Homo sapiens: one gene and its partners. The protein of the gene in region 3 purifies or fractionates together with the protein of the main gene of each other region. This does not show direct contact. Each region holds a gene or a part of one and is shown on either strand. Other genes may lie near its edges. The genes, in order: DGUOK, NPLOC4 and MTPN.

The links.
Region 1: the proteins of MTPN (region 3) and DGUOK purify together in Homo sapiens (affinity purification with mass spectrometry; 2 studies listed by BioGRID and IntAct, with this or other methods). This does not show direct contact.
Region 2: the proteins of MTPN (region 3) and NPLOC4 fractionate together in Homo sapiens (co-fractionation; 2 studies listed by BioGRID). This does not show direct contact.

The regions. Positions count from the first base shown.
Region 1 is NC_000002.12:73,943,774-73,950,879, reverse strand, and holds part of DGUOK (deoxyguanosine kinase, mitochondrial isoform a precursor), read right to left. Parts: intron 4,162-7,106; coding exon 3,974-4,161; intron 296-3,973; coding exon 148-295; intron 1-147.
Region 2 is NC_000017.11:81,606,085-81,613,190, reverse strand, and holds part of NPLOC4 (nuclear protein localization protein 4 homolog), read left to right. Parts: intron 1-2,932; coding exon 2,933-2,981; intron 2,982-4,368; coding exon 4,369-4,463; intron 4,464-6,376; coding exon 6,377-6,500; intron 6,501-7,106. UniProt on the Homo sapiens protein: The ternary complex containing UFD1, VCP and NPLOC4 binds ubiquitinated proteins and is necessary for the export of misfolded proteins from the ER to the cytoplasm, where they are degraded by the proteasome.
Region 3 is NC_000007.14:135,974,350-135,982,344, reverse strand, and holds the start of MTPN (myotrophin), read left to right. Parts: upstream 1-4,985; 5' UTR 4,986-5,244; coding exon 5,245-5,316; intron 5,317-7,995. UniProt on the Homo sapiens protein: Promotes dimerization of NF-kappa-B subunits and regulates NF-kappa-B transcription factor activity. Plays a role in the regulation of the growth of actin filaments.

The DNA of each region.
Region 1 (7,106 bases), on a different chromosome or scaffold from region 3:
GGGACAGGAGGGTGTCCCCCACTGCTCTCTGTGCTGCAGGTAATGTCTACGCTCTAATCTCTCCAACCAGAAAATCAGGGGCTTGGAGAATGTCACTTCTTAGGTTTCATATGGCCCTAAAGTCTAAGGTTGTAGGTTCAGTGTTACCTGGGGAGAAGCCTGGAGGTAGATGAAGCCATGTAATGTGATCCGGCTGGCAAACTCCCACAGGAGAAAAGAATGCCAGTCCTGATAGATATGCCACTCGATGTCACTGAGGGAACCATTTTCAAAAAGATTCTTTGCAAAGATATACCTGGTTGGAAGTGGGATGGGAATGGGGAGGGCAGGAGAATGGGAAATGGAATGAAAGGCACGAGAGAGAGAGAGAAGCAGAAAAATCAATAACCAACTTGTTCCATGTCTGTTCAAACCACTTAACCTTTCTAGCTCCTCATCAATCCTTAAGAAATCTGAATTCTTAACCCATATCTCCCTCCCTGCTCAGTACTAAGATGGGAAATAGGATCTAGACTTTGGAGGCTGAAATCACACCTTTCCAGATGGATTGATTCACTGGAAGAAAAGAGACAGAAGATAGTATCATTGGTCCCTAACAATTTTCTCTGCTAGAAACCAGTCAGAACATACAGCAAATATATGTAAACTTGAACTTTTGAGATTTCCTTATTATTATTATAGCAAGGCCCAAAACAAATAAACAAGTGAATCCAGTATAAATCCACCCACTAAATTTCATACAAGGACTGAGGGCTTCTAAGTCTCCAGGCTACTGAGCCATCCTTTTGTTTAGCTGAGACATGCAGAAGAAATAGTATTTATGTGGTGTCCTCTATGGAGCAGAAAATGCATTTCCTACTAATTTCAGTATTACTAAGAAAGCAGACTCTCCTGCAAAATGCATTATGAGCTCCTGCTTGCTTGCTTCCTCTGCTGCTGAGTTTCTAGTTCAGATAAAAGAAAGCTAAAGCTAAAAATCAAACCAGCTTTGCCCCCTGCTTATTTCTACAACCAAAAGAGCATCTGGTAAACAGGAAATCAGAGCTAAACATAAACCATGGCTTCAGACAAACCAGGGGTCAATCCTGCTTTCAAACCTCAGGCATTTTAATAAAAAACACAATTTGCATCCTAAGCAAGGGACTCCAGTTTCCAAGGCAATGCTCAGCAACTGGCCACTTTGGAGAAAATAAAATTCAGAACCCTTGTGTATGATGGCTCAGGAAAGTACAGACTGCAAGGCTGTGAGTGTCACCACTGAGAGAATACCTTCCAGAATAACATTTCAGGGTCTGATACTGGCTGAAACATTCACTAGCTATGTAACTTCAGGCAAGTCACCTAAATCCTCTCAGCCTGTTATGATGATGTCTTGTAATAATCCTCACAAAGTGCTTAGAAGAGTGACTGGCACATAGTCTTCTAGATATCTTAGTTATTATTATAACTGCTTTTTGTTAGGCTATGAAGAAGCTAACTTAGAAACTCCACAAGTAAACTTTCCCAGTCTGGAATGGTTTAGCCATAGTCTAGTTGATGAGAACAAATAAAAGGGTAACATTTTAAACTCAAAATGTTTTTGAGTTCTTTACAGATAACTAGAAGATGAAATTAAGATCCTATAAAGTGGCCACGCACTGTGGCTCACACCTGTAATCCCAGCACTTTTGGAGGCTGAGGCGGACGGATCACCTGAGGCCAGGAGTTTGAGACCAGCCTGGCCAACATGGTGAAACCCCGTTTCTACTAAAAACACAAAAATTAGCCAGGCATGATGGCGTGTCCCTGTAATCCCAGCTACTCAGGAGACTGAGGCACAAGAATTGCTTGAACCCAGGAGGCGGAGGTTGCAGTGAGCCAAGATTACACCACTGCACTCCAGCCTGGGCGACAGAGCGAGACTCTGTCTTAAAACAAAAAAGGATCTTATAAAGAGAAATTAAAGATTTGCTAATAAGCCCTATGAAAGGGGTTCTTGGCTTTCTTGAGAAAGAGCACTTCCTTTATTTCTTCAAAGCTTGTGGTGGTGATGGGGTGAGGGGCAGAAGGGTGTGGTGCTGAGTGGGAGGGAAGTACTGCAGACTGAATGCAGGGGCTGCAGGACAGAACAGGGCATAAGGATCTAGGAGTCAGGGCCTCTGCTCTAAAACCATATGCTAATGTTTCCTTTAACTCAAACAGAAAAGACTAAGATTTCTTCCTCGCTATAATCAACTCTCCCAGATAACCTGTGTTCCTCCTTTGGAACAAATATCACACACGTGAGCATGTGTTCAGTCCCTGTTAGGCAGGGACTGGGTCTGCCTTATTCACTGCTGCAGCCCCAGGGCCAGCCTTGGTGCTTCAACACAGGAGGCATCCAATAAATCTGTGCAAGTGAACAAAGTCTAAATTACCCTCGGGATTAGAACTTGTGATTAGTTTTCCTTTCTGTCTCGAAAATGCCCTCACTGAAGATAGCACCTGGAATGTTGTATGCCCACAGTGTAATCAATTATTACCTCTTCCTTTACAAGCAAAGGTTAAGATCCATGCAGCTTCTTAATGCATTTCTAATTAACAAAGTGTTTCTACTTCTCTATTTTCCTCTGAGGGTCTCACACACCTACTTCATGAAGCGGCTAGAAATAAAGACTGACTATGTTTCCAAACAACCCATGTGGTTATATGTAATTCAACTTCGGAGTCCGAGAGGCATGGCTTGGGAGAGAAGAGAGGAAAACAGGCAGGTGGGATATCCAACAGCTGAAAAAGAAGTAAAACCTATAGCCCAGCCATTTGTAATTCACATATTTAGCTTTTATAAAAAGTAGGCTCTCTCGGGGTACGTACACAAGGAACGGATAGCCTATAGGGTTTGTTTTACATATCTTCCATGATTTTAGGGTAAAGTCAGAAAAATCACTTGTCATTTACAAATGTATCCTTATTTTTTTTCTTCTAGGAGGCTTTCCGGAAGCACTAAGAAATAGAACTAGTTTGTCTAATTTGGAATTAAAAGAGTAACCAACTGAGTGTCTTCAGCAGTGACAATGAAAATGTACCACTTCCCATTTTGATAATTCAAAGAGCCTTAAGAAAGATCGTTTTGCTTGAAAGCACTATTTCACACTGACACTGGTCATTCATAGGCTTCAGATAAGAAAAACTCCAGCAGTGTCCAGATCAAGCCATCCTGACTTTGTCTCTAGGCGGCTTAACCTCAAGTCACAGCCTGGTCTCTGCAGCAGAGCCAGGCATTCCGGAGCCTGCACGGCCTAGCTCTTCTGGAGCAGATGGGCTCACTTCCCAGGGTGCTGCTAGCTTGCATTCAAAGTGACTTCACATCTCACTCCCTCAGGTGGTCAGGATGATGCCCATCCCTGATCTGACACAGGCACTGATGTCCACTAGACTCTGGCCAGCAAAAAGCCCTCTCACAGAAGAAGGGGTCAAAAAGGGCTAAATCTGAGACAGAAGCCAGTTTCTCAGATGTGCTATTTCTGCCTAAGCATCCTTTCTTGAACAATAAAAAAAAAAGGCTGAAAATATCTCTTATATCATTTTCAGGAACACAAATTTTAATTTCGTCTGCTTTTTTCTTAAAGGGGATAATCAACCACTGAATCATCTGATTTCTTAGAATATACACTGCTACTTAAGTGTCTATTATGTGCCTTTTAGCATGTGATGGTTACATTAGGTGGCTACCAGCTTGCTCCATGCCAGAAAATAAGGAAACATAAGGTAATCAGTAGCAATGTAAGAAATTCAAAGCATTCAGTTGATGAAAAACCCAATTTCCTTTCTTGACATAGATGACAATCTGGTAGAAGTACAACTCTGGACAAATCTGTATAGTGTTGTCTTTAAAAAAGAAGATAATTTTTCAAATTATAATCATCAGTGACCATAGCAGTGCAGGATCTGTGCAAGATCAAACAGGCAGCACTGAGCATGGGGCTTGTGACTGGTGGAGGGCTTGGCATTTTACCTGTCACTGTACACAGACCTCTCAAAGATCTGTACTGGCTTCCTGGCCTGTAAGAGTTTCTCAGGGAAGGGCTCCAGCTGTACTTTCAGGCGGCTCAAAAAGGAAAATGTCTGGAATGTGTAGGACCATCGTGCTGGCTCCCGGTACATCATATCCAGCAAGTTTCCAAGACTTTGGGCAGTGCAGGCCTAGAGGGAGATGAAAAAAAGAAGAAAATTTCCTAGAAAGCATATTTACTCCATGGGGTACACCCCTCCACACACACCCCTACCTCCCCAAACAGGTTTAATAATCAATGAAAGAAGAAATTACAAAAGTTTCCTTCCACCAAAAAGGTAGAATCAGATCCCCAGCTTAGTCAAAATTTCATAATCAGGTATGAGATTTTCCTACCTATTAAATAAGACTCTCTAAAGGGAGATGACATGCCACTTCAATATAACAAAAGCAGAGGAAGAACCATATATAGAATTAACACGATCACTGATTGAGGGATTTGTGAAGTCTGTCTGGGGAGGAGTTAACAGTCAACAACCATCTAAAATTTAACTCTGAATCAAATCTTTCCACTATAACACTATGTTGCCTCTCTTTTGAGCTTCCATCTGTAGTTATGTTTATAAAATGTCAAGGCAAACCAGAAAGCAACTGCTTATTTGAAAATCCAACCAATCAACCACCAAATAGAATTTTATCTTTCATATAAGGAGTACAATTTGTTTGTTAAAACAAAACCCTACTTAATTCTAGAGACTTTATGAAACATAATTAAAACGTTCCACTTACTCGGCATGTGCAAGTGGGCACAAGTGTGGGATGTTCAGCAGCCCCGGATTTTTTTTTTTTTTTTTTGAGACAGAGTCTCACTCTGCCACCCAGGCTGGAGTGCAGTGGCACGATCTCAGCTCACTGCAACCTCCCGGCTCACTGCAACCTCCGCCCTCCTCCCCACCCCAGCCGAGTTCAAGTGATTCTCCTGCCTCAGCCTCCTGAGTGGCTGGGATCACAGGCACCCGCCACCACGACAAGCTAATTTTTGTATTTTTAGTAGAGACAGGGTTTCACCATGTTGGCCAGGCTGGTCTCGAACTCCTGTCCTCCCAAAGTGCTGGAATTACAGGCGTGAGCCACCACGCCCAGCCCCAGATTCTTTTCTGGATCTGCCATTGACTCAACAATGCAAAAGTGAATTTTGTACAAAAGCACTTTGGATCTGTATTTTTTATTCAATCACCAATCACTGAAGGCCTGTGTGGATGAGGCGCTACATGGGCAGGGTACCGTAAGGGTATAGAAAAAGGAATTAACATTTATTTCAACCTTTACTGTGGTATGTTACCTCAATTAATCTTCAAAACAGCTTCATGAGGTAGGTACTGTTGTAATGCCCATTTTCCAGAGGGGAAAATCCACTCAGAGGTTAAGTAACTTACTTGTGCAAGGTTTCATGGCGAGTAAATGTTGAAGGGACTCAAACCTGGCTTCCTCTAACCTCATCATTCCAACACCCTCCATCTAAAGGTGAACAAGACAGTTCCTGAACTCAAAGAGCTCACAGTGCAAAAAGGAAGAGGGTGATGAGGATGTACGAAGCTGGAATGTAAGGCAGAACATGTGATGAAGGGACGATTACTGATGGTGGAAGGAATCTCAGGGAGTTTCTGAAAGAAAGTGGCATTAAGCTGGGAAGTAACTGATGAGTAGAATTCTCACAGATGGAAATGGAGATTAAGAAGATTGTACTTCAGGTAGAGACAACAGGACAGAAGGAGAAAAAAGATTCAACAACAGTAAGAAGTCCAATTTGGCAAAATAGCACTATTAGATTCCAAAGAAGGGTCTTAGCCCTTTGAAAGGCTTCAGCAGAAACAACACATATAGAGCAGAGTGGACCAGAAAAGCATTTAACTCAGAGGTATTTTCGGGATTTCCCTCCTTCTGACCCCGCAAGCCCACACATACCAGCCTCACACGTGGCCCCTGACTAAGAGCTGGAGGTAGAAGTAGGAGGACAAATTTGTGTCTCCTGTAGTCTCTGTGGTGTCACTAGAGATGGTTGGGAGCAGCCCTGGGCCTGTTGCACAATTCACACACTGTATGTGGAGCGGAGTGCTGTGCTGGCAGATGCAATAGGTTGACTGGTGGGTTCTATTGCACCAGTGGGCTTTGGGCTATCAAAGAGAGACTCTTCTGGAACCAAAAATGTAAAAGAAACCAACACAATTTCTGAAAGAACCCATCTCAGCTACAGAACAAATGCAAACATCCTTCCAAAAATATAAGCAAACAGATGAACAATAATTGGACACAAAAATACTTAGCAATTCAAAAGGAGAGGACTAGTCTCTGTGCTCAGACAGGGCTGTTGTCAGAAACAGGAGAAAACAAAAGATACGGCCTTGCTGATAAAACAAGAATAAGCTATCATAAAAAAGGAACAATAAGAAAATAACTTTCTTAGAGGTGAAAAATGCAATTGCCCAAGTAAAACACCCAATGAAGATAATGAAGATGGTAGCTAGCAGACTGTATAATGCAGTAAACCTAATTAGTGAATTAGAAGATCCTTACAGAGTATCAGTTTAAGGGCTAGGTATGGGGGCTCACACCTATAACCCAAGCACTTTGGGAGGCCAAGGCAGGAGGATTGCTTGAGGCCAAGAGTTCAAGACTAACTTGGGCAACATAGTGAGACTCTGTCTCCACAAAAAAATTTAAAAGTTACCTGGGCATAGTGGTGCATGCCTGTAGTCCCAGCTACTCTGGTGGCTGAGGTGGGAGGATTTGCTTGAACCCAGGAGTTCAGTGCTACAGTGAGCTATACACTTGATCTTAGCCAAAAGGCTGAGAAGCAATGCTGCAGTGAGCTATAATAGGGCCACTGCATTCCAGCCTGGGTGACAGAGTGAGACTCTTTAAAGAAAAAGAAAAGAGTATCAGCTTAAGAAATTCTCCCTAGGGGCTGGACATGGTGGCTCATGCCTGTAATCCCGGCACTTTGGGAGGCCAAAGTGGGTGAATCGCCTGAGGTTAGGAATTCGAGACCAGTCTGGCCAACATGGTGAAAGCCTGTCTCTACTAAAAATACAAAATTAGCCGGGCATGGTGGTATGCCTGTAATCCCAACTACTTG
Region 2 (7,106 bases), on a different chromosome or scaffold from region 3:
TATCTTCAGATTAAACTTCAAGTTATCTTGTTAGCTTTTTATCGGTTTTTGTTTTTTTTTTTTAGCTTTTTATCAGTTTCCACCTCAAAATATGTTCCCATAAAAAATTTTGAAGCATTTGGGTACAAAGAGACTGGAAAGGTATTGGGGGAGTTGGGGGCCTCACACCAAGTCTTTACTGTGATGTCCCCTGGAGATGCTGATTCCCGTGCAGAGTGGGGTGTTAATCAGCAGCTGCAGGGGAGGGAGGAGGGAAGGGGCAGGTGGTTGTGTGTGCGCATCCATGTGAGGTGAGTGCTGTGTCTCTCATTTCATAGCGGTTGGATGATTTTGACCTGCCACACTAGTGTGCGCTCTCCATCCCTGCAGCAAGCATTTCACTTGCAGAAGATGCTGTGCCTTGGAATATTCCCTCCTCACCTGGGGCTATATGAAGTGCTTATGCATATGTACATTGTTTATTTTAGATTTTTTGCAATTCCTTTTAAATAAACCAGTGAGAAGGATCTGAGTTTATACTTGGCCATGTGAAATTGTCTGAGCGAAGGTTGTCTCTGCAGTGGGGTCTTTTTTAAAATGCATCACTCTGTAGATGTGACGGGGTGCTGACTTTGCGGTATTGGGATTCCAAATGCTGCATTAGCAACTTTTATGTCTTAGATCAGAGAGCCATAAATGGTGCTCTCCTGCCATTGGCATGGAGCCACTTTGTAGCCATAGCCATTAGCCGGCATGCCTCTTCCATTTGTGTCTCCTCCCAGGGGCCTGGCACTGGCTTGCTTGCATGATCTGTGTCTTCATGGCTTCATTAGCAGCTTTTGAGAGCGTGTGTGTGTGAGAGAATTCTGAGCCATCATCACTTAGATCCTGCCTATTAGGAAGCACAGAGGCCACCTCTGTTCCGCAGCACAGGGCTCATACGCATGTAAGAATTCTGACCCCACTTAGAAAGGGGTCTGACTGAGCCCCGGAGGGACGGCCGCCGGCGCCCTCGTAAACCAGCATACCTCTCCTTCAGATTGTGCGTGTTGTGCTCCCAAGGCTTCTGTGACTGAAAATGTTAGAAAGCCGTGGGACAAGGTTTTTTCATTGTTGTTATTTCCCAAAATGCATATGAAGTAGGTATTTTCCAAACTTGGATTATTTATGCACCGCTCTCAGGCCCTTTGCCATGTTCACGTACCAGCTTTGTTATTATTTATTTAACACTTTTCTTTTTTTTTTTTTTTTTGAGATGGACTCTCGCTCTGTCACCCAGGCTGGAGTGCAGTGGCGCGACGTCCGCTCACTGCCAGCTGCGTCCCCCCGGTTCACGCCATTCTCCTGCCTCAGCCTCCCAAGTAGCTGGGACTACAGGCGCCCGCCACCACGCCTGGCTAATTTTTTTGTATTTTTAGTAAAGACGGGGTTTCACCGTGTTTGCCAGGATGGTCTCTATCTCCTGACTTGTGATCCACCCGCCTCGGCCTCCCAAAGTGCTGGGATTACAGGGCGCAAGCCACCACACCTGGCCTATTTAACACTTTTCTTTAAATGGACTTGGCCAGGCGCAGTTGCTCACACCTGTAATCCCAGCACTTTGGGAGGCTGAGGCAGGTGGATCACCTGAGGTCAGGAGTTTGAGACCAGCCTGACCAATATGGTGAAATCCCGTCTCTACTAAAAATACAAAAATTAGCCAGGCATGGTGGTGTGCACCTGTAGTCCCAGCTACTTGGGAGGCTGAGACAGGAGAATCGCTTGAAACGAGGAGGCGGAGGTTGCATGGAGCCGAGATCATACCTCTGCACTCCAGCCTGGGTGACAGAGTGAAACTCCGTCTCAGAAAAAAAGAAAACAAAAAAAAAACTATTTTATTTATTTATTTATTTGAGTGGAATTTCACTCTCGTCTCCCAGGCTGGAGTGCAGTGGCACAATCTCAGCTCATCGCAACCTTTGCCTCCCAGGTTCAAGCAATTCTCCTGCCTCAGCCTCCCTGGTTCCTGGCATTACAGGTGCTTGCCACCACGTCCGGCTAATTTTTGTATTTTTAGTAGAGATGGGGTTTCACCATGTTGGCCAGGCTTGTCTTTAACTCCTGACCTCAGGTGATCCACCCATCTCAGCCTCCCAAAGTGTTGGGATTAGAGGTGTGAGCCACTGCCTTTGGCCAATAAACTACTTACATTGACTTTGAGTTCATTCACTTTTATCTTTGGTTTGTGTCATTTTTTTTTTTTTTTTTTTTTTTGAGACGGAGTCTCGCTCTGTCGCCCAGGCCGGACTGCGGACTGCAGTGGCGCAATCTCGGCTCACTGCAAGCTCCGCTTCCCGGGTTCACGCCATTCTCCTGCCTCAGCCTCCCGAGTAGCTGGGACTACAGGCGCCCGCCACCGCGCCCGGCTAATTTTTTGTATTTTTAGTAGAGACGGGGTTTCACCTTGTTAGCCAGGATGGTCTCGATCTCCTGACCTCATGATCCACCCGCCTCGGCCTCCCAAAGTGCTGGGATTACAGGCGTGAGCCACCGCGCCCGGCCTGGTTTGTGTCATTTTAAGCAGTGGATACCCATGAAGTCACAGGTTTGATGTGCGGGTCAGTTTTTTCTAATTCATATCAACATAAGTAGTAAACTTCTGGGTGTGGTGGTGTACACCTGGAGTCCCAGATACTCGGGGAGGCTGAGGTGGGAGTGCTTGAGCCCAGGAGGTGAAGGCTGCAGGGAGCCACGATCACCACTGCACTCCAGCCTGGGCGATAGAGTGAGAGCCTGTCTTTAAACAAAACAAAACAACAATTAAAATATAAATGTTTATCCATGTGCCATCTGGAATATAACTCCACGTGGGCAGGGAAACACTCTGTTAAAGTAGGACGTGCATGTGAGACAGCAGCAGCGGAACACAGACATCCTCACTGCTCTGCCTTTTTCTGCCTTGTACTCTCCTCAGATGCCGCCACGGCCCTTTGGGGAAATGCGTGCACTGCGTCCCTCTAGAGGTGAGAGTCTCTGCGGAGTAAGTTCTGGGCCAGTGTGGGGGGCTGCGGGTAGACAGCTGTCTTAAGTGCTTGCCCTGAGTCCACGCACTTGGCTGTAGTGAGTGGTTCAAAGAACTTACCTATTTATTGCCCTGGGCCTCATATTCCCCTAGTGCAAGCTGCACACAGGACGAGCCTTTATTTATGGGAGTGACCTTCTCGCTGGATTATGAATGGCTGAAGCATTTGTGTGGCTGTGATAAAGGGGCAGCATTTACAGCGGGCTCCCTGGACAATCCTTTTCCGATCTGACACAAAGCTGAGCCTGTCGGCCTCCGTGCTTATCATTGTTGATTTACTTTGCCTTGAATCTCACATCTCTTCTACTGGTTTGTCCTGGTGAGACTGAGAGTTACCGTAATAATGCCGACTGGAACTGTTAATGCTGGGTTTACAGCAGGAAGGCCAGCCCGATTTTCTTCATGAGGCATCTCTTGCCTCATCTTGTGGCATTTCTTTTTGCACAATTTTCCTGAAACTCATTTGACTTAGAGCGTTTTGTGTTTAATAGAGATTCATTTTAATCTTGAAAAGATAACTGGCACACAAAGAAAAACTTGCTTCTGGCTATGTGCAGTGACGCCTGTAGTCCCGACACTTTGGGAGGCCAGGGCCAGAGGATCATTTGAGCCTAGGAATTGTTCAGCCTGGGCAACTCTTTTTTTGTATACCCTGTCTCTACAAAAAATTTAAAAAATTAGCTGGGTGTGGTGGTTCACGCCTGTAGTCCCAGCTACTCAGGAAGCTGAGGCAAGAGAATCACTTGAGGTCGAGGCTGCAGTGAGCCATGATTGCACCACCATACTCCAACCTGGGCAACAGCATGAGACCCCATCTCTAAAACAGTTAAATTGGCCAGACTCAGTGGCTCACGCCTGTAAAGCTAACACTTTGGGAGGCCAAGGCGGGTGGATCATGAGGTCAGGAGTTTGAGACCAGCCTGGCCAATATGCTGAAACCCCGTCTCCACTAAAAATACAAAAATAAGCTGGGCGTGGTGGCGTGCACCTGTAGTCCTAGCTACTTGGGAGGCAGAGGCAGAAGAGTTGCTTGAACCCAGAGGTGGAGGTTGTAGTGAGCAGAGACTGTGCCACTGTGCCACTGCACTCCAGCCTGGGCGACAGAGTGAGACTCCGTCTCAAAACAAACAAACAAAAAACAATTAATTAAAAAAAGAAAAACTTGGTTCTGACTCAGAGTGGTAAGGGAGACCCTAGTACCTGCTTTCACTGTGGGCCTTGACTTGCCAAGGCCATGCTGCTGGCCTCCCCCTGTGCGTAGCAGAGGCTCAGCGCCTGGAGTGACCGGCACGTGTGAGACTGCACTCGCTTACTCTGTGTCTTGGCAGCCATTCGATGAGGACTATCTAAACCATCTCGAGCCTCCCGTGAAGCACATGTCCTTCCACGCCTACATCCGGAAGCTGACTGGAGGGGCTGACAAGTAAGCAACTTGCTGTAACCTGGTTGTGCGTAAATTCCTTTTTGTGTAGCTGGCAGTTGTTGCTTATAGCCAGTGAACGTGTGAATGAGAGAAGTAAAGATGAGAAGGGGTCACACGCCTTTGAAAGTTACCGTGGTTCTATATTTATTTATTTATTTTTTATGTACTCATATATGTTTTTAAGAGATGGGGTCTCACTATGTTGCCCAGGCTGGTCTAGAACTCCTTGGCTCAAGTGATCCTCCTGCCTTGGTTTCCCCAAAGTGCTGGATTACAGGTGTGAGCCACCTCGCCTGGCCAACCTGGTTCTAGAAGGGAGCTAGCAAGGCAGAGCGACTGTGCAGGCGCCTGGCTGCGTGGCCACAGTGCAGTATCAGACAGAGGCTGTCCCCACACACACCACCCCAGCAAGTTAGCATCTGTGATGGTGGCCTGTTGATTCTGTGGTCTGAGTTCATTCTCTGCTTTTCAGAAAAACAACTACCCTGTGAGAATCTCAGCTTCCCCACCTCAGTGCCTGGTAACCCTTTCCCCAGAGCCTGGCCTCTGAGTCAGCTTGGTTTTCAGCCACAGCAGGGGCTGCAGCCACTAATCCTCATGGTACCACAGTAGTTGCCCACAGGCTCAGCCAGGTGGGCAGAGGTGGTAACAGTGGCCAGAAAGGGGTGAACTGAGCATTTTGATTTCTTTTAAGCCATGGCAAGCCCTTGCCTGTATGACCTTCTCCTGTTGGCTCTCTGTACACCCTACCAGAAAGTAGCAGGCTTCAGCTATTATTTTATAATTCCTGTCAGTGCAACGAGGAGATGGTGGCTGAACTGAAGTCAGCAACATTTTGTGAAGGATGTCATATTCGCCTGATTGTAGCTTTTCTCTGACAACCTGCTGACATCCTAAAATGACTTTTTAAAAATGTTAGACCAGAAGAAAAAACCTGCTAGAAACCCACTGTTGCTTGTCAGTGGGGAAAGCTGTGGAACTCTCTGGACTAAGGAGTGGGTGCAGATTGATTGTAGTGAAAGAGACTTGGTCAGCCTTTCTCAGTCTAGGTCAAGGAACACAGTCTCTAGTGGGGGCGTGTTTGTGGCTGCTGTTAGCATGCAGATTCAGTGACGAGTCTTTGCTTCCTAGATGCTATGATACCAAAAATGGCTCACCACCAAAAATGATCAGTATGTGAGGTAATGCATATGTTAATTAGCTCAATTTAGCCGTTCCACAGTGTGGACATGTTTCAGAATATCATTTCGTACACTGTAAATATATCGTTTTTATTTGAAAAACAAAACCTCACGTCTACCTTAAAGATACAGATTTCTTTTTTTTTTTTTTTTGTCAGTTATATTTCAATAAAGCTGGAGAAAAAGAAAAAGTTCAGAGTAGGGTCCAGGATTTTCTCATTGACAGTCTTCAACAGTAGTTTTTATTTTAGCCTAAAGCAGAGTAAAGATGCCTTAATTATATATCCTAATCAGATTTTTCCCATGAATAAGAATTTTTTACAAATATCTAAGTACTGGGCTAATGTCAAAGTTTCTGACAATTTAATGAAACCTGTAGGAGCCTCATGCCCGCTCAGTGGCACAGGTGAGATCAGTAGATATTCTACAGTATTCTTGAAAGCTTTCTCGGATGTTAGTGATAGATGGTAAAAAACACCACAGTTTGGTAGGAAAGTAGTTGTGTGTTCCTGTATGGTTGAAGTATGTGGGACAGAAGCTGGGATTCGGAATGTGCTGGAACTGTAGGTAGAGCTTCCATTAGAATCATCCTTAGCCCATCTTCCCTGCTGCTGCCACGTGCTTAGCTCCTGAGACACTGTTCAGGAGGTATAAGATACTTAGCATGTCATTTCCAGCCTCTTGCTCAACTTTTCACCAATGTGATGTTTAAGTTGCTTCTCTTCTATGTAGGGGGAAGTTTGTTGCCCTGGAGAACATCAGCTGCAAGATTAAGTCAGGGTGCGAGGGGCACCTCCCGTGGCCGAATGGCATCTGTACTAAGTGCCAGCCGAGCGCCATCACGCTGAACAGACAGGTGAGATGTTCCCTGTCTGTCTAGATTTGTTTTCATGGCTGAGAAACGGATATTTCCAGAAGAGCCCCTTGGAGTGGAATGCTATTAGCACTATGCGTGGTGGATTTTCAGTACTTTTTGATGGACTGAATGATCCTTTTGTGGAAGTGGTACACTGAATATATCATTTTTAAGGCTTCTTGCTCTTGGAGATATGGAGTGCGCGCCCTCAGTTCTCTGTTTTGCTGGCTCATATGGAGGCAGAATGTTCCTGATGATTATTTAAAATCCTCAGTGGTTGTGAGGAAACTGGCTCTGAAGGTTGGTAAAGGGGCACCCCTTGGACCAGCTCTGAGCACCTGTCCAGGCTGGCTTAAGGAGAGAATGTGGCTCAGGAAGGAGGGAGCGTTCCGGCCTTTCTGGATGTTCTGCTGTCCTTGTCCCGCCTCTGAGTAGCCTGCCTCGCCTTCCTCCTGCCGCTGTGCCCTTAGAGAAAACGGCTCCTTAGAGAGAATTCCGTGGCCTCCTCGACTTTTTTGGAAACCTCCTATTCTCTATTCCTTTTTTCTTCTTGAAAACTACTTTATTTTGGCCGGGCAAGGTGGCTCACACCTGTAATCCCAGCAC
Region 3 (7,995 bases):
CTTCTCCCCTTTAAATACTGAAACTCTCAAAATCATCTTTGAAGAAAGGCACAGATCACAGACTGTTTCTGCGATTCCATGTTCATTTGTTCCAGGTATGTCCTTAATCTTGGAAAAATAAACTCCTAAATTGATTGAGGACCTGTCTCAGATACTTTTGGGTTTGCACCACATTATCCCTGTCCTTATCTATTTCTTTTTTTTTTTTTGAAGACAGAGTCTTGCACTGTCACCTGGGCTGGAGTGCAGCAGCGTGATCTCGGCTCACTGCAACTTCCGCCTCCCAAGTTCAAGCGATTCTCTTGCCTCAGCCTCCAGAGTAGCTGAGATTTTACAGGCACCTGCCACCATGCCCGGCTAATTTTTTGTATTTTTAGTAGAGATGGGGTTTCACTATGTTGGCCAGGCTGGTCTCAAACTCCTGACCTCGTGATTCACCCGCCTCGACCTCCCAAAGTGCTGGGATTACAGGCATGAGCCACTATACCCGGCCTCCTTGTCCTTAAGTGAGCACTGGAAAATGTGATCTCCTTAAAGTCTGAGCAGCGTTCTCAGACAACTCTGTCCACAGAAGGTTGAAGCCCCACTCCCACTTGGAGTCTATTTACAGTTTCCTTTAGTCTTGACTGATAGCTATTTTGGCATGTCTCTCAAAAATTTAGCCAGCTTCTTCCATATTTGATTCAAGCTAGCTCCACATACCATGATTGTGTGTGTCTCCACTGCACTAAGTCACAACTTTCTCTTTTAATTCTTTCTTGTAGGTACCTTGAATCTATCCAGCTCTGTCATGGGAAGACCTGTGCCATGTTGTTCAACTGAAAAGATTCATGGGGTACCACTTTAATCTATTCGGAGGTTTTAGTCATGGGTGTGACTATCACACCCGTAATTTGATCCTTGCCAAGAGGTTGAGTTCTAATCAACCTTTGTTGCTCATCTCAGTTTTGTTTTTAATGAATAATAATGAGAATCACTTGCATCTTCTAAACGTGCATGTCTCCAAGTTTATAGCTTCCTATAATCACTTTCTTTCCTAACTGCAAGCTGGACAATTATTTTCTAAACTCATCATTTCCTGTAGTATTGAGACAGGAGAATAGGGTCTGGAGGCACGGAGATTAATTAAATCTTTTTTAATCATCTAAGGCTGATTCACACTGACTTCCTAAAACTAAATCAAAAGGAAAACCCCAACTTCCCATGCCTAAGTAACAAATGGACTCAAGGCTACTCCCTTTGCAACCCCCATCTTTTCTGAGTGTCAGATAAAAAATTGTAAGTACCTCTGACTGGTCCCCTCCTGCAGTCAATCAGGCTGGTCACAGGCCAAGTCTTCCTTTGCATAGGAGTATAACTTTGTAACTTCACTTCAGCCTCTGATTCATCACTTTCTGCAACCAATTAGTCGTTTGCATAGGGTGTAACTGTAACTTTGCTTCAGTCTCTGATTGTTCCCCTCCTGCAACCAATCAGACTGATTGCGGGCCACTACTTCATTTACATAGGGTGTACACCAAGTAACCAACAGGAAACCTCTAGAGTGTATTTAAACCCCAGAAAATTCTGTAACCAGGTCCTTGAGCCACTTTCTCCAGCCTGTTCCCACGCTACAGAGTGTGCTTTCATTTTCAATAAATCTCTGCTTTTGTTGCTTCATTCTTTCCTTGCTTTGTGCATTTTGTCCAATTCTTTGTTCACAGTGCCAAGAACCTGGACACCCTCCACCAGTAACAGTATTTTATATAGTCAATAGTTACTGATACATGCCACCAGCTTTCCATTTTCTGGCCTTTTCCTCTAGAACTACTAGACCTTCCCCATATTATTACAGTTTTGCCAAAGGTTTCACTCCTGTGAGTATGAATCACCATCTTTACGGCTTCTCCTATCACTTCCTTTGTTGTATACTCCCCAGCCACTGAGCCAATGCCATTTATTTAAAGGTTTTGTTCTAGTAACATTCCCATTCTGACACTAATTTCTGTGTTAGTCAAGATTGGTTCAGTGTTCCTCTAGTAATAAACACCACAATTTCAATGGCTGAAAACAATACAAGTTAAATTCATATTCATCCTATATATCCATTATAGGACAGTGAGGGAGCTCTGCTCATTGTAGTTACACAGGAACCCAGACTGACTGTGTAGCCACTATCTTGCATGTTGCTAGTTGCTGTAGTAGAAGGAAAGAGTTCTGAAGGGTCTTACAATGACAAGCCTGGAAGTGACTCATTTCACGTCTGCTCATAACTAATAGGCCAAAATTAGTTACATGATATTATTCAACTACAAGCCAGGAAGAGCAGTTCTCTCTTGTGCCCAGAATGGCAGACAAAGGAATTATTTGTTTAACACCATGAATACTTACCAAAATAGGTAAACAAAAAAGATAATTAAAATACTTGTGACATGTGCTGTAAATGGGGGAAAAGCTGGGCCCTGTAAGTAATTGAAGGACCTATTTAAAGTGGGTGGTCTGGGAGGTCTCTCTGAAGGTTTGCATTGAAACCTCAAAAGTCAGATGGAGTGAACAAGACTTAGATGAAGAACATTCCAGAGAAGAAACAAGAAGCATAAAGGCCTTAGGGTGGAATGAGCTTGGTTTAGCTTGAAACTGACAGAAGACAAGATATTTCAAAATCAAAGAAACAATGGGGGTGGCAAGGGACTGTCATGAGATAGGAGATACTATCACCTACCATCAGCAGTCAGTGCACAGAAGGCCCTGAAGGCCATATCAAGTAGTTAGGATTTTAACCTACCTGCAATAGGAAGCCTTTGAAAGGCCTTAGGACAACAAGTGCATGTTTAAGTTTTAAAAGAGTAACTCCCAAAGTGGGGAATTATCTAGAAAAGGATGAGTGAAAATAGGACACCAACAGGGAGGCTATCATAGCACATAGCATCATAGCAGTGTAGACAGAGATGACAGTGACAGGGATGGGGGATATGTGAGGGTGCAGGGAGTAGTAATAGTGAAGATGGCAAGAAATGAACAAATTTAAGACATATTTTGAAATATTTACTGATGGATTGAATAAGAGAAAAGTTGAGAATGGGAAGAGTGATTATGACTCCCATGTTTCTGGTTTTAGTGATAGGGTGGTTGGCAGCGCCATTTACAGAGATATGTGGGGGACAACTAGGTTTAACATCTACAGGAGACCAGATCCTATTCTGGACATGTTAAGTTTGAGAAATCCAAATGAGTAAGAAGTTAAATATAAGAATAGATCACATAGGAAAAGTCTAGTTAAAGATTTTTTTTTTAGATGATCTTGCTCTGTCACCCAGGCTGGAATGCAGTGGTGCCATCATAGCTTACTGTGGCCTCAAACTCCAGGGCTCAAGTAATCCTCCTGCCTCAGCTTCCCAAGTAGCTGGGAAGGCAGAAGTCCGCCACTGTACCCAACTAATTTTTTTAATCTTTGTGTTTTGTAGAGATGGTGTCTCATTTTGTTGCCCTGGCTGGTCTCCAACTCCTGGCTTCAAGCGATCTTCCAGCCTTGTCCTCCCAAGGTGCTAGGATTACAGGCATGAGCCACTGCACCCGGCCAAAGATATAAATCAAGAGCTCTCAGCATGATGTAACTCAGAAATCACACAGGTGGGAGTGTGTTGGAGAAGAGATGGAGATTCTAGGACTTGCCTAACAAATTCCCCCTTGAGATTTGTTTCCAGAAATCGTATCACTATTGGGTATGTGGATTTGTATTTCTAATTATCAGGGAGTAAAATTAACAAATGACAATCTAGGTAGATGTTAATATTTGGAGGGATTTCTTCTGATTTGAAACCCATTTGCTATTCTACTCTAAATGATAGCAAAAAAAAAAAAAATACATTTCCAAACACTATTGACATCCCCATTTTACACAAGTGGAAAACTGAAGCAGAAGGGGGTTCAGTAACTTGCCCAAGAAGACACAAAATTAGCAAGAAGTGGGACCTGTATCGCAAACTAAACAATTTGGCTCCAGAGTCTGTTTGGAACCCCTACACTGTACGGCAATGGTGGTAAAGTAGCTTAGTTAATGTGTTTAGTGGGTTACAAATAATAGATTATATATATGAGTTTTATATATAGTAATAGTTATATATGTATATATATTATACGTATATTTCTAGCTCCAATAAGAGCTTTTATTGGATCTATGTTCATGTGCGCATGCCTGGATCATTAGGGTTGTGAGGAACAATTCAAGTGGTAGCTATGCACTATGGCATTACAACTAAACCCTAGGAAGAACAGAACTGACTTCACCAGAACAGTCCTGAAGTTTCAAACCATTAAAAACAAACAGTAAATTTAAAAAACGCAAATTGTACTAGACAGTTTGGTTTGCTCCACTTTACGGCATCAAACTGAATGCCTGGACGTCATTTGCTGGTCAGGAAGATGAGTTAATTTTTTTTTTCCTGCCACACACTTAAGTTTTTTGCTCCAGGGAACATTATACATAGTGTTAACACACTCAATTTACATTGTAGTTTTAGTGTTGAAGATTTCCTGGAGGGCAGGAATAGCGTTATTCCATCGTTTTTAGCCCAGTCAGACTGGATGACGGAGAGAGGGAGGGGTGAAAAGGAGGGAGGGAAGGGGAAAAGGCAAGGAAGAAGGAATTCAAATTAAACACTCTTCCTATACATTTTTAGAAGCTGAGCAAGATGCCCTCCAAGATTATGTTTTTTAAAAAGTAAAGTTTTTCCCATTAATGGTGGTGCAGAAGCGTCCTAATCCCATCGAAAGTACTCTCACTCTTCCTCCATTCGCTGTCTTGACCTCCCCCGGGCCTCCTTCATTCTGCCTCCCAGTCCCGCCCACTTGTCGCCGGCTCCTACCCTCCACTCTAGCCTTCCCGGCAGCCTGTACATTGCGCATGCGCACTAGTGGCGTTCGCGCCGCGGACCCAGAGAGAGGCGTTCCGCGGAGGAGAAGAGGAAGAGGAAGTTGGGGGAGGGTCCTAGCGGGGAGTGAACCGGAAGTGTAAAGGTTCCTGCCTCTCCTCGGCCAGGCGGAACCTCTCTGCTGGGCCCGGTGGCCGCAAAAGAACTTTCTTTCTCCCGCCCGAACGGTCGCCGCGGCCAACTGCCTCGCCCGCCTGGCAGCCTAACCCTCCTTCTCTTCTTCTCCTCTCCGGCTTCGCGCGGCCCTGCCTCCCTCTCGCCCGGCGGCATCCGCTTGCTGCTGCCACCGCCTCCTCATCTTCTGCCCGGCCAACCGGCCTGCCCCGCTGCAGTGATGTGCGACAAGGAGTTCATGTGGGCCCTGAAAAACGGAGACTTGGATGAGGTGAAAGACTATGTGGCCAAGGTAAGCGGGGATGAGAAGAGTAGGCGAGAACACGGAGGTGGGCTGGAGATGAGGCTGAGGAAGCTGATGGGAGCTGGACTGCGGGGATGGGGGTGGGCGGGAGGAGAGACTTCCTGGGTGGAGGCGGCACCAAGGAGAGAGGGGCGTCTAGGGAGGAGCTAAACTGAAAGAAGGGTCCAGGTAACTTGGTAGCGTTCTGTGTCAGGTAACTGCTGCGTTAATACAGTTAGGCGCTACCTGACTTCCTGGCCTCTTGGGGGAGGGGAGGAGTGGTGTCTGGCTCATCCAGAGTTTCTTCTGCGCACTGATCATTTGAGTTTGGCCCTCTTCTACACCAAAGTTACTTAAACCTTTCTTTGAATGAGGTAATTCTCCATCTTGGACTTACCCATTACTAAATGAAGTAACCTAAGTAATTAGGATCAGAGGAACATGTTTTTTAACTCTCGGCCTGGTGTGAAGTTGAAGAATTCATTGACCGTGAAAAGAGTACCGAAAATAGAAATAGTTAAAATTCTGAAACTGAGTATCACTTCACTGTGGTGTCTTAACTTTGGGTGTGGCCTTTTTCCTTTCCCCCACCACAACAAATACATATTTGCTTCAAGTGGTAAGGTTGTCAACTGGCATCTGGGAATGTTTAAGGTATCTGAATAGTTTTTAAACAAGCATGTTAACTTCAGTTATTCCATTCTTCTCCCTGATTTCACCTGAAATGCTTACATGTGTAGTAAATAGCAATGCAGTTTAGTGGCAGTGTATTTGGGGGGTAAAATCATGATGAAGAAAGACAAACTCAAACCTCAGCCCCAAATATAAAACTGAATCGACATTGTGGCAGAGTGGGAAACTTAAAATTCCAAGCTAGCCTGTCTTTCCATCCTGAAACTGTGCCTTTGTAATTATGAGAGAACTTAACATGTGATTTTAATTTAGTGATAATCTAAAATGAATCTTCCAAAACAAGTATAATTTTATGACAACCACGGATGGCATCTTGCTCACCTTCTAAAAGTGTGAGAACCCAGTCTAGATTTTAACTCTTCAAAGAATAGGACCTGACCTGGGTTTTTGCTTCAGAGGCTGTGTTAGGAAGCAAGTAAGCGAAGCAGTTTCTTAAAACTTACAGGATTGTGCAAGGCAAACTGCTGAAGGTTTTTACTTTATTTAATGCCATTACAATTTAGACTTTTTGGATGCTGCTTACCTGCTTAGTTTTTTGCAGTGGAGTTTTAGGACAGGCTGTCTTCTCGTCACTGCCTTCTCAGCTGGTAGCCAACTGAAACTTGACTTATTGGCTATTTCAATATAAAGCTAAAAGGTAGAAATTATTTGGTACACTTACCAGTGGTGGGACACTGCAATACTCTGGAAGTAAGTGGGCTTTTGTTTTCCTGTCATGGTGGAACCTAGGTTGTTTGATATACTTGAAATACAAAAAGTTGATTAAGTACTAACTGAACTTACAGCTACCAAAATAACACAATGTATTTAGTGTTTTCCTGACACATTATTTTATGTCATCCTTGTGAATACTGGGAAGTAAGTCCTATTATTGGTCCCATTTTACAGATTACTGAGATGCAGGATACTTAAGAAAAGTTATGGAGATGGTAAATTGTGAAGCAAGAACTAAATTGCTGACTCCAAAACTGAAACTCTTTAACTGCTCCACGCACTATCTCTCAGTCTAAGATCTAATTGTGAAAGCGTATCATACCAAGATTTCTAGTAGGACATTCCCAGGGTCCACATTCAGGCAGGTAAATTGTGCCCAAAGAATTCTCAACTACACAAAAATATTTATATGAAAATATATGCCAATAAAGATGGATTAATTTATTTCCAATTAGTTTTATAATTAGGTTAGGTTATCATGTTCAATTTGATTATTTTCCCTATATTACTACCGTAGCCTGTTCTTCATTAATGTAAAAAATTTGCATAAGAGGGAGGGTAGACATTCAGAAAAAGCAAAAGGGAGTATTGAAAGTTGGACTATCCAAAAAGATATGACTGTAACTGTAATGTAATCTGATGTACAGAGCATTGAGCTTTATCCTTTCTTAGTTTTGAAGATTTCATAAAGTATCTTTCACTTTGTTAATGAGAAATAATAACAAGAACTGAAGTTTATACTGACTCAGCTCCCTTACGGTGCCCATTTATACTTTCAGGTCCTTATTACAGTTTCTTCTGCCCCACAGCTGTCTTCCCTGCTTATTTATTGACTCACATTTTTCATCTACCAATTTGTGAACACTCACTTTTTGAGTTTCTGTAATGTGCATCTATCTGAGTAGGTGTGTACAAAGAAAATACTAAAGAAACACTTAGACCTGTCTAGTCTTCATTCTCAGGGGTGAGAGTCTATTTTAAAAACTCTCCTCAACATTCCTGTGAAGATCTCTCATATTGTTAACCTAAGAATCTACCTGTAAGAGTAAGATAAGCATTTTAGTATTCCCCTCCTCCTCCTCTTTTTTTTGGAAACAGGGTTTTTTTGTTTTTGTTTTTCGGAGACAGGGTCTTTGCTTTGTCGCCCAGGCTAGAGTGCAGTGTCGTGATCATAGCTCACTGTAACTTCAGCCTCCTGAGCAGCTGGGACCATAGATGTACACCACGACACCCAGCAAATTTTATTTTTTGTAGAGACTGGATCTCACTTTGTTGTACAGG